2 separate regions of the Homo sapiens genome follow, and region 2 is linked to region 1. The links come from fine-mapping of genetic effects on gene expression. A gene starts in region 1. The other region holds a variant in brackets. All regions are shown on one strand. Distances are from middle to middle.

Region 1 (5,358 bases):
ACCTAGGTGAGGACAGGCATAATTTTGTTTTCCTGCCCAAATATTGCATTTCCCAAGACAACCCTGGCCTGCCACACCCCCATCCTGTGCTATAAAAACCATGAGACCCTAGCAGGTAGACAAACAGGCGGCTGGACGTCGAGAGGAGCACATCAGCGGAGGAACACGCGGGCAGCTGGACGTTGAGAGAACACACTTACGCCAGCAGGCCACCAACTGGCAGAATGACATGGAGTTTGGCTGGGGCAGTGGGAGGAGAGCCTGGGCCGCCAAGCGGCCCGACACCAGGGGAAAACCATCTCCCTTTTGGCTCCTCCACCTGCTGAGAGCTACTTTCACTCCATAAAACCTTGCAATCATTCTCCAAGCCCACGTGTGATCCAATTCTTCTGCTACACCAAGGCAAGAACCCCGAGATACAGAAAGCCCTCTGTCCTTGCAATAAGGCAGGGGTTTAATTGAGCTGGCTAACACAAGCCACCCACGGACGGCTAAACTAAAAGAGCACCCTGCTACATGTGCCCACTGGGGCTTTGGCTGTAAACAGTCACCCCTAGACACTGCCGTGGGGTCAGATCTCCACAGCCTACCTGTCTGTATGCTTCCCTAGAGGTTTGTGCAGTGGGGACTGAAGAAGTGAGTCACACCCACATCGCACGCCCTGTGAAGGGGACAAGGGAACTTTTCCCATTTCATTAGGGGTTGGCAAACTAAGGCTCATGGGCCACATTGTCCATTGCCTGCTTGTGTAAGTAAAGTTTTATTGAAACATAGTCATACCTACTCATTTACTATTGTCTATGGCTGCTTTTACATTACAAAGTTGAGTAGTTGCAACAGAGACTGTATTGCTCACAAAGTCTAAAATATTTACTATCGGTCCTTTACAGAAAAAGTGTCACTCCCTGGAATAAATGAATCAAATGGAAGTAAATGGAAAAAAAAAAAAGGATTCATTCATTCGTAATAGGCAGTGTATCATAACTGAAAAAGATAGTGAAAATTGGTTTCAGACAAACCCAGGTAAGAATCTCACCTTCGCCACTTGGCTGGAAAACTCTGAACAAATTATTTTTACTCTTTGGGCCTGTTTCTGCATCTATCACCTTATAAGGTTGCTGTCTGAGAATTCTACTATACAATGTAATGTATCTGTTAGAGTGTAATATATCTGTTATTAGGTTTGACCTCATACAATAGAAACACAAAATAAAAGTGTCTTACACAGGACAGCAGTTTTTTTCTTTCATGTGGAGGTCTGGAGGGCAGTGGGTATTGATTGGTTCAGTGCCTCCTGCATTAGGAATCCACGCTTCTTTCACTTTGTTGCTTTGCTGTGTGTGGGTTTCATTCCTGAGGTCCTTTCATGGTTCAACACGGCTGCTGGAGCAAATAAAAAATCAAATACACAAAAGCCCAGAGAAAGAGCCATCCACAGAGGCCAGGCAACAAATCCACTTATTCAAGTCTAGCCAAGATGAGACCCCCTTGCCACAGTGCATGAAACCAGCATATTCCACTTATTCCATTCTTGGGGTACGTTGAAACAGATCTGGAAGCAATGTCTTCTGTGTATTAAGCATCTAACACTTTACAAAGCATTTTCATATGTCTTACCACATTTGTTCTTCATAATGTTCTGAAAAGGTAAGATGAATACATCTTATTATTCCTATTGAACACTTGATTCACACAGCTGCTAAGTAACAGATTCCAACGAGTCTATAGCTAGGTCTTTGGGTATGTTGCTGGTAATGAAAAGGTGAACAATCATGGTGCAGAAGAAAGAAAATGAGCCAAACCAGGATCCCTGGTAGAGTTGTAGTGCAAAGACTGGGGTTAATTGTGTGGCCTCAGCCTCACTGGGCTGTTCTCCTCACCTGTAAGACCAAGATAAGAGCACTTATTTACTTCGGGGTTGTTGTGAAGATAGCAGACAATCTTAGTGCACCTGCCACTTAAGATCCGTTCAGTGAAATTATTACCTTTCACAGGTGTGTCTTTGGAAAATCACTTCCCTTTCCTGGATCTCAGTTTTCTTTTCTAGGAAAACAACATGTTTGGACTCAGCGACTGCTAAACTGTCTCCCAAACCTCGAACTCCCTCAGCCTGGGATCCTGCCTTTTATGAAAATAGTTCGGATTGGAGCTCAGGTTGGAATTCTCGCTTTAGTTGCTTGCTAGCTGTGTGTCCCAGTAAAAGCTAAAAATTTCGGATTCCCCACATCTGTAGAATAGGGATACATAACATGCAGCTTATTAGAAAGGGAAGGCATGTGAGAATTAAATTAGGTCCGTGTCCAGTACCCACTAAATTGTAAAAACTTCTCAAAGGCAGGGACCCATCTGTTTTGTAGATTTACAGAATGTCATACGTTGAAGTACGGGGGTTCGCCACGGGATTAGAAAATTTCTGTAGAGTAAGGAACAAGACACAAGGTAAGCATTCAAGAATTGTAACCATGCAATATTCTTATTTCTTACAGTCGCCTACAACAGTCCTGGTGTTTAGTAAACGGTCTGACACACACACCCATCAGGGGCTGCGGAGAGTCCGCCTGGGTAAGCTCCGCAAGGTGAGTCCCCAGAGCCGGGAACTCGCAGCCTGAGCAGACGCAGCGTAGCCGATCTTGGGTCCGCGCTCCTCCCGCCTTGCCCAGCCCTGCCCGCGGTTGGCTAGGCCCCAGGGAACGCTGCAGCCGCGGGGTGGGCAGGCGACGGCCAATCCCACGCCCGGTTCAAAGGGCCAATCAGGCCGCGCTTTACAGGGGCCGCGCTTTACAGGGGCCGCGCTTTACAGGGGCCGCGCTTTACAGGGGCCGCGCTTTACAGGGGCCGCGCTTTACAGGGGCCGCGCTTTACAGGGGCCGCGCTTTACAGGGGCCGCGCCGGCGGGGGCGGGATCGCGCGCAAGGCGGGGCTGTAGCCGCCCCGGGACCGCCCTGCTCAGGCGCCGTGGGGTTCGGCGCGGCTACGTGCAGAATCCGTCTAGCTAAAATGTAATTTCAGATTGGACAAGTACTGTAAGTGACCCTCCTCTCAGTCCCACGTGGGCGCTGGGGGCTTTTGCTGGTGCGCAGGCTCTTAGCGCGCACGCCCAGAAAGAGGCTTCTCCAACCCGGCCCGGCCCTTCCTTCCCCTTTCCCGCAGTCGTTGCCTCCTCCTCCCCTGCCTCCTCCTCCCCTTCCTCCTCCTGGCCGCTTAGTCTCACACCCGCCGGGCCGTTGTTCCCGAGACGTTGTTGAGTCCCCTGTGTCCTCTTCTGGGTGAGGCGTCCGGCCACTTAAGGGAAGGGAAGGGAAGGGTCGGCCTTGACTGCATCCCCAAGGCTGCCTATTAGGTGTCTGGAACCCGTGCTGCTTCCTCTCCGATCAGTGCCCACTTATCTGTATTCAGTACTCTTTCTCTCCTCCCCTTACCCTTGTAGGACATTTTCCTGGCATTTGAGGAGCCTTTAATTCACGTCTGGCTACCGAAGGCATTTTTAGGCTAGTGTTGCTTGTAGATTTAAACGCTTCCAGCACTTGTGATAATGTTTGAGGCACAGCTGAGTTTAGATGAGATAATGCTGTTTGGTTACAGTTATCCTGAGTAGAAAGGCCTAGGGATATCTTTTCATTTTTAGCCGTTTCCTTTTTATTTAAAGATTGACAAGGGGCCGGGCGCGGTGGCTCACGCCTGTAATCCCAGCACTTTGGGAGGCCAAGGCGGGTGGATCACGAGGTCAGGAGATCGAGACCATCCAGGCTAACACGGTGAAACCCCCGTCTCTACTAAAAATACAAAAAATTAGCCGGGCGTGGTGGCGGGCGCCTGCAGTCCCAGCTTCTCGGGAGGCTGAGGCAGGAGAATAGCGTGAACCCAGGAGGCGGAGCTTGCAGTGAGCTGAGATCGTGCCACTGCACTCCAGCCTGGGGGACAGAGCGTCTCAGAAAAAAAAAAAAAAAATTGACAAGGTGCAAAATGGTGAATTTCCCTCATCATGGGCTGTTTTCCACTAAAGCACTTCTGTGTCTTAACACAAATTTCTTCCCCGAAGAGTCAGTCATGACATGACCAAAGTCTGAAAAGCAGTTAATCCTTAGGTTAAATTTTAAAGTATGAGACCAGGAGGGGTGAGGTGCTTATTCTTTTGACTTGTAAATCAGAATGAAAGAAGGGAAAGTCTTTTATTTTGTGGCTGTTATTTAAATGGTAGAGTTTTGCTTTGTATAGTTTTTGCTTGCTTTTCCTCTTTTTTTTCTATGATCCACCACGTGTATGTCCTGATTTTTTTCCTTTTTAACTTGCTTGCTGGATTTTCCAGCCAGATGACTGCCGCTTGGTCTTCTGGGAGTCTCCTGTTAATGGGGCCCTCATGCTTGGCTCTTGACCTGATGGCCACTGGCCTGGCTCTTGGAGGACCTCCTAGTGGGAGGCCCAGAGCACTGTTATTAAGGATGATTGGGGGAACAGATCAGAGGGGGTCAGCTGGGCCTGGAGATCAATTTTGAGGGGGAGGGAGGTTGGGAGCCTGCCTGGCTGGATTTGGAAGTCAAAACATGTGTGCTGGGAGAAGGGCATAACCCCAGAGGGTGGAGAGCCATGTCTTTCTGGATAAAATTAATAAGTTTACTGGGAGGAGGCTGGGCCTTCCAGGCTGTGTTAGTTTTTGTTGTGGGCCTTGGCTTTTCCTGGAATTTGGTTCCCTTTCCCTAACCTTTCACTTATTAGTTTAAATAGTTCCCTTTACCTAACCTTTCACTTATTGATTTAAATAGTTTAAATCACAGTCAATTACCAGCTGGTTTTTAAAATAATTTGAGGTAATGAATCTTGCCCTTAATCTCCTAGCCAGAGTGGAACCCCCTACCTCCACCCCCAGGGGGATTTGAAATGATTATTTTACCAGAACGTGCTACAGAGATCACTTACCTTCTCACCCGCCCACCTTTTTATAATGGAGGGACATAGAATCAACCCAGGTGGTGTCAGAGATCATCCAAATCAGTTCTTCATGTATTCATTTGTTCACTCATCTTGTCCACATACTTTGGGCCCAGAACTGTGGTAGTCTCTGGGAAAGTGCAGATGAGTAAGACTTGGTCTCTGCTTTCAAGCTTTCATCCAGTTTGCTTCAATCCACTTTGATGAGGGAGATTATGTGATAGTGAGATGAGTACATTGAAAAGGTATGCCGAAGACTCCCAGGAGTTGAGAGAAGGGCAAATGGCTCAACATGGGGAAGCCATTTGGGGAGGACTTCCCAGAAGGGAATACTGGAGCCGAGTTCCAAAGCCTAAGTATGAGTGGGCTGGAGAAAGAGCGAGGGATTATATGAACCGGGAACAGCATGTGCAGAACTACACAAGCATGGCA
Region 2 (5,378 bases), 150 kb before region 1:
AGCGGAGGTGGTAATTGACTTTGGTTGAATGGGTCTAAATGGGTTTTAGGGAGAAGACTCTTTGAAGCTGGATTTTGGAAAATGAGTTTCTTAGGCATCCCGTAAATAAGGAGTGAGGTTTAAAGATGAGGAAATGAGGAGAAGGGCATTCCAAGCAGAGCAACCAGCCTGTGCAAAGTGCACAAGCACCGAGGCATGAAACAGCAGGGACCTAGGCAGGAAACCATTAGTAGTTCTATCAGGCTGTTTTGCAAGGCTAAGAGCTGCCAGGAGGAAAGACATGCTGCCTACTGGGAATAATGCTTAGGAATGTTCCCCTCAGCCTTTATAGAAATATATGGTGTTCAACAGGCTTTTTATCTCTTTTATCATCCTGAATAACCCCAACAAGTAGGAAAGTCAAATATTAAGACTATTCCTATTTTGGGACTAAGAAAACAGCTTGGAGAAGTTAAATGACTGGTCTAAGATTACACCTCCAGTGTGTAGCAGAGGCCAAACTAGATCCTCTGACTCCTAACTTTAATAATCTGGACACACTGGCACACAAAACATTTTGATGAGTGCTGCTAGTACAAAGAAAAATAAGATTGAGTTCTCAGTTTTCTGCTACAAAGGCAATGATGAGGCAGCTCAGATCTGCAAAGGACTGGATATGAAGCCTTGACAGAAAAGTAACCACCAAGATTAATCAACATGAGTGCAGCACTTCACAGCTTGCAAAGCACATTTACATACAGAATCTTAGTTGACATTTATGGAGACACTGTGGCAGATTGTACAAATAATGTTCTTGTTCCCATTTTTCAGATGAACTAGATATACTAATTGATTTGTTTAAGTCACACAGCCTGTAGGTGATAGATTTAAGACTCAAATTCAAGTCTTTCTAATGCCAAATGTATAATACCCATGGGGGCTGTTAATATAATGGCCAATATTTATTGTGTGATTACTATGTGCTAGTTGCTATGTTAAATGCTTACATGCAACATTTCATTTCCCTTCTACAAATATGCCATGAGGTAGATACCTGCTTTAAAATAAAGAAAATTGAAACTCAAAACAGTTAAGTTCCCATAGCTAGGATGACCAGCCAACCACCACTCAAAGCCCCCTGCTTCTAGCACTATGCAATGTTGTCTCCATTGTCTTTAGTCTAGTCCACCCGAACTAAGGAAAAAAATACTTTGAGCTTTTCACAAAACTTGTGTAAAAGCAGGTACATTTGAGGATAAAAAGTTTAACTATTTTATTCAAAACTCTTTATTCCCTTTGTGAATGGTCCAGTGAAAAAGGCCAAGCTTTCCATGTTACCTGCGAGGAAGGCCCAGAGAGGTCATGAGACCTAATCAATAACACACAGCAGCACCAAATTCCTAGTTCAGTGCTCAAAAGTTTAAACCCCAAAAGCCATTCAACTCCTCCTCCCTCCCCTCTGTCTTCTTTATGACCTGGCCTTGTAGGGTAATGGGAATGAGCATGGAAGACAGTCAAGCTGGGATCTGAATCCTGGACATAGAATTTACCAGTTGTAAGCACTTGGACAAGTTGCTCTTTGTGTCTCAGCCTCAGTTTTCATAGCTATAAAATTGTTATATAACATTGTTTTTTTTTTTTCTTTTTTTTTTTTTTTTTGAGACGGAGTCTCGCTGTGTCGCCCAGGCTGGAGTGCAGTGGCGGGATCTCGGCTCACTGCAAGCTCCACCTCCTGGGTTCACGCCATTCTCCTGCCTCAGCCTCCTGAGTAGCTGGGACTACAGGTGCCCGCCACCACGCCTGGCTAATTTTTTGTATTTTTAGTAGAGACGGAGTTTCACCGTGTTAGCCAGGATGGTCTTGATCTCCTGACCTCGTGATCCGCCCATCTCGGCCTCCCAAAGTGCTGAGATTACAGGCGTGAGCCACCACACCCGGCCTATAACATTGTTATATACTATTATTCAACTTGAGGGGGGAATTGAAAAGGTTAAATGAGGTAATGTCCATCATTCTATGTCATTACTTTGTTTTAATTTCTTCCTAGCATTGAACACTACTTATGATTATTTTATTTGTTCATGAGTTTACTGACTTTCTACCTTTGTCTTTCCATAGCTGTTCTCCAAGTGTCTAGAATTGCAGTGATTAGCACAGTGGCCACTAGCCAATGTGGCTATTAAGCATTTGAAATGTTCCTAGCAGGAACTGAGATGTGCTGGAAGTGTAACATACACACAAAGTTTCAAAGACACAGCATTAAAAAAAAAGTAAATGTAAAATATTTTATTGATAATTTTTATATTGATCACATATTGAAATAATATTTAGGGCATATTGGGTTAAATTATTAAAATTACTTTTACCTATGTCTTTTCACTTTCTTTAATGTGGCTGCTAGAAAATTTAAAATGTCGTATGTAGTTAATATTATTGCCATCGACCAGTGCTAGTCATGAACAATGCTGGCACATACTAGGTGCTCAATAAATAGTTGAACGACTGAATATTTTTCTTTGAATGAGTGAGTGGCACAAAAGTGAAAGTATGTGAATAATAGTTTATCTCAAGTAGGCGACCTCCATAGGATAAAGCTGTCTGCTTTAGGTTAATAAACTAATTCTGGTTGAGGTGTTAATAGCTGATAACAGCTTAACTTGTTGGCATGAGTCAAGGTAAGATGTACATTTTAATTGCAACTCTCTAGAAGTCAGATAAAAGTAGGCTTTTTAATTCTACTGTGAGGTCTTCCAGAAGCAAGGTTCCTTTAGATTAAATTAAAAAAAAAAAAAAAAAGAAGAGGAGGGAGGGGACAAATGCTGAGAATGGGGATGGAACAGAGGATGGAGGGAGATGCGGAGAAACTTCAGAGCGGCAGGTGCCTT[C/T]GTTTCCCGTTACCTGCTGAGTCTAGTCCCTTCCAGGGCACACAGTGGGCGCTTAGTAACTGTAGAAAGAAGTCGAACGAAATCGGAAGGGGGAGAGGCAGAGGCCACAATCAAGACACGGAAACGACAGTCAGTCGAGGCAGCAGAGAGGGTTTCACGCGGGCCAGCGGAGGCGCAGGGCAGTTGAGAAGGGAACTTGCCACGGGGCGGAGGGGCCGCGCTCCCCACCAGCGCGGCGCGGGGGCGCTAGGCCAGGGACCGCCGGGCCAGGGACCGCCGGCTGCGAGCAGCGGGAACGGACCTGCCCCGGGTCGCAGCGGTTTTTCCCGGGCGGGGCTGAGGCTGCAGGGAGGCGGGCGTTCCGGCGGAGGGTCACGGCCTCGCCGCCGGGACTTTCCTGGGGTGGAGGTGTGAGCACGTAGGAGCCCTGGCCTTTCCAACTTCCCAGGTCAGACTGGGGCTGGGACCACCCTGCGCGGCCTTGGATGCAGGGAACCAACCCAGTGCTAGTCCGCCCTCGCGGGGACCTGTCCTCTCGCCTGACCTATGAAGTCCGTCCCTGCCTCCAAGGCTCCAACAAAGTCCTTCTTTCCCCCAGAGTAGCAGTTCTCAAACTTGAGTGCATCAGCATCACCCAGAGGCTGTATTCAAACACGTTGCTGGCTCCCTCCACGGTTTCTGATTCTGTGGGTTTAGGGTGGTGATGCTGATTCCTCTGGTCAAAGGACCATCCCTGGAGAGCCACTGCCCTTTAGGTAACGATTTTCCCCTCATTTTTCTTCTGAACTCGGTCAGCACCTTGTTCAGCCTCCCACTGAGCCTGGAACCCTTGACAGCTGGGGAAACAAGTGCGTTGCTGCTAAGCCAGGAGGGCACCTAGGAATCCCAGCTTCCAATCCAGGGCGTTTTCCTCTGCATTCACTGCTTCTTTTACTCTCTTGGGAGCCTATGTGTGGGATCCAGAACAGGGCAGAACCCTGAGTAGTAAACGCTGAACGGGAAGCGAGGTTAGTTAAATCCAACTGCAGGAGAGGAAAAAAGAGTCCTTTTCTTCCGGAGAGGAGAGGGTACACAGAGGATGCCTGTCCACTGACCAAACCTGCCCTGAGCATCACCATTGACGCTTTCGTTCATTCAAAAAACAAAGTTAATTCAGCAGGTGCTCTATGCCAGGCACTGACTTGGTATGGGGGATAATGAAGGAAATAAAACCGAGATCCCTGTCTTTGGAGAACATACTTCCTAATAGGGAGATTAACAGTAAACACAATAAAAGGTAAATCAATGAATATGTTAGAAGGTAGTAACAGTTACAAAAAGAAAAACAAGAGTAGGGTAAAGGAGTGCAATTGGAGTTGCAATTCTAAATAAGATGGGCAGGTAGGCCTTATTGATGAGGTGAGTTAAGATATTAAGCCATAGGATAGCTAGGGGAAGAGCGTTTCCAACAGGGGGAACAGCCAGCGCGAAGGTCCCGAGTCAGGAGCATGCCTGATGTGTTTGAGGCTCATCAAACGGGCCATTGTAACTGGAGTAGGGGCAGGGATGGGGAAGAAGCTGAGTAGGAGATGAGGCCAGAGAGGTAAAAGGGCGGGCAGGAAGATGTTAGAGGTCTGGCCCAGCCATTGTTAAAGGATTGACTTTTACCCTCCAATTTGATTTACTGTTTTGCCCTAATGATTCTTGCCTCGTCCATCTACAAAATCTGCCTCAAAAACAGCCGTTAACCATCCCCTGGCTCACAGCTGGAGCTTGTTTTGAGAATGATACTATTTTCATAAGTTGGTGGGCCCCAACCTCTCAGATTTGGGGCTTGCAAAGGTTGCAATGACCCTTTCTGACCTGCAGATTAGAGAGTTGGTAATTCATATTTGCTTTCAGCATTTTTTTTTAATTTTCTCTCATCATTCCCCATACCTCCTCTGGGTTCTTGTTCCCCTGACGTACCTGCTCCCTGAAGCTTCCCAGATTTCTAGAGCAGCACTGTCCAATCAAAATATGATGTGAGACACATAATTAATTTTAAATTTTCTAGTGGCCACATTTAAAAAAGTAAAAAGAAACAAGTAAATTTAATATTAATTACATATTTGGTTTAACCCAATATACCCAAAATATCATCTCAACGTGTAATCAACATAAAAAATTAACACACTATCATACATATTTTCTTCTATACTGTCTTGAAACCTAGTATGTATTTTACATTTATAGCCCACCTCAATTCAGCCTAGCCACATTTCAAATGTGTCATAGCCTCATGTAGCTAAGGATTACCTGGCCAGCACAGTCCTAGGATACTCATGTTCCTCCCCAACTCCCTCTCCTTAATATAATTTCTGCTTCCAGACTGAGCTGACACTTCCTTCAAGAAGCCTTCCTTGATTTCTCTACTTCCTTCGTATGCCTATGAGAATGAAATGAGTTAATATATGTACATTGCCTAGGATAGGTACTGGCACATAGTAAACAATGGAAGTGTAGCTATCATTATAATACCATTTACTACGGTTG

Direction of the effects. Positions count from the first base shown, and alleles are read on the strand shown. Sizes are in standard deviations (SD) of each study's normalised expression.
With allele T in place of C in region 2, the expression in testis of the gene that starts at base 2,666 in region 1 is higher (moderate effect, 0.64 SD a copy in GTEx).

The links.
Region 2: its variant is fine-mapped to the expression of FGGY-DT in testis (GTEx, PIP above 0.99).

The regions. Positions count from the first base shown.
Region 1 is chr1:59,293,885-59,299,242 of GRCh38, forward strand. It overlaps FGGY-DT (FGGY divergent transcript), which reads right to left and starts at 2,666. Exons shown (of 2, transcript XR_001738089.2): 1 at 2,485-2,666; 2 at 1-1,880. It overlaps FGGY (FGGY carbohydrate kinase domain containing), which reads left to right and starts at 3,210. Exons shown (of 16, transcript NM_018291.5): 1 at 3,210-3,266. RefSeq lists silencers at 2,612-3,151, 3,162-3,251 and an enhancer at 4,669-5,358.
Region 2 is chr1:59,143,799-59,149,176 of GRCh38, forward strand. HSD52 (a long non-coding RNA gene) reads right to left here and starts at 3,009. Exons shown (of 3, transcript NR_027120.1): 1 at 2,878-3,009. RefSeq lists an enhancer at 2,838-2,897 and a silencer at 3,018-3,167. The variant C/T (reference allele first, on the strand shown) is at 2,865.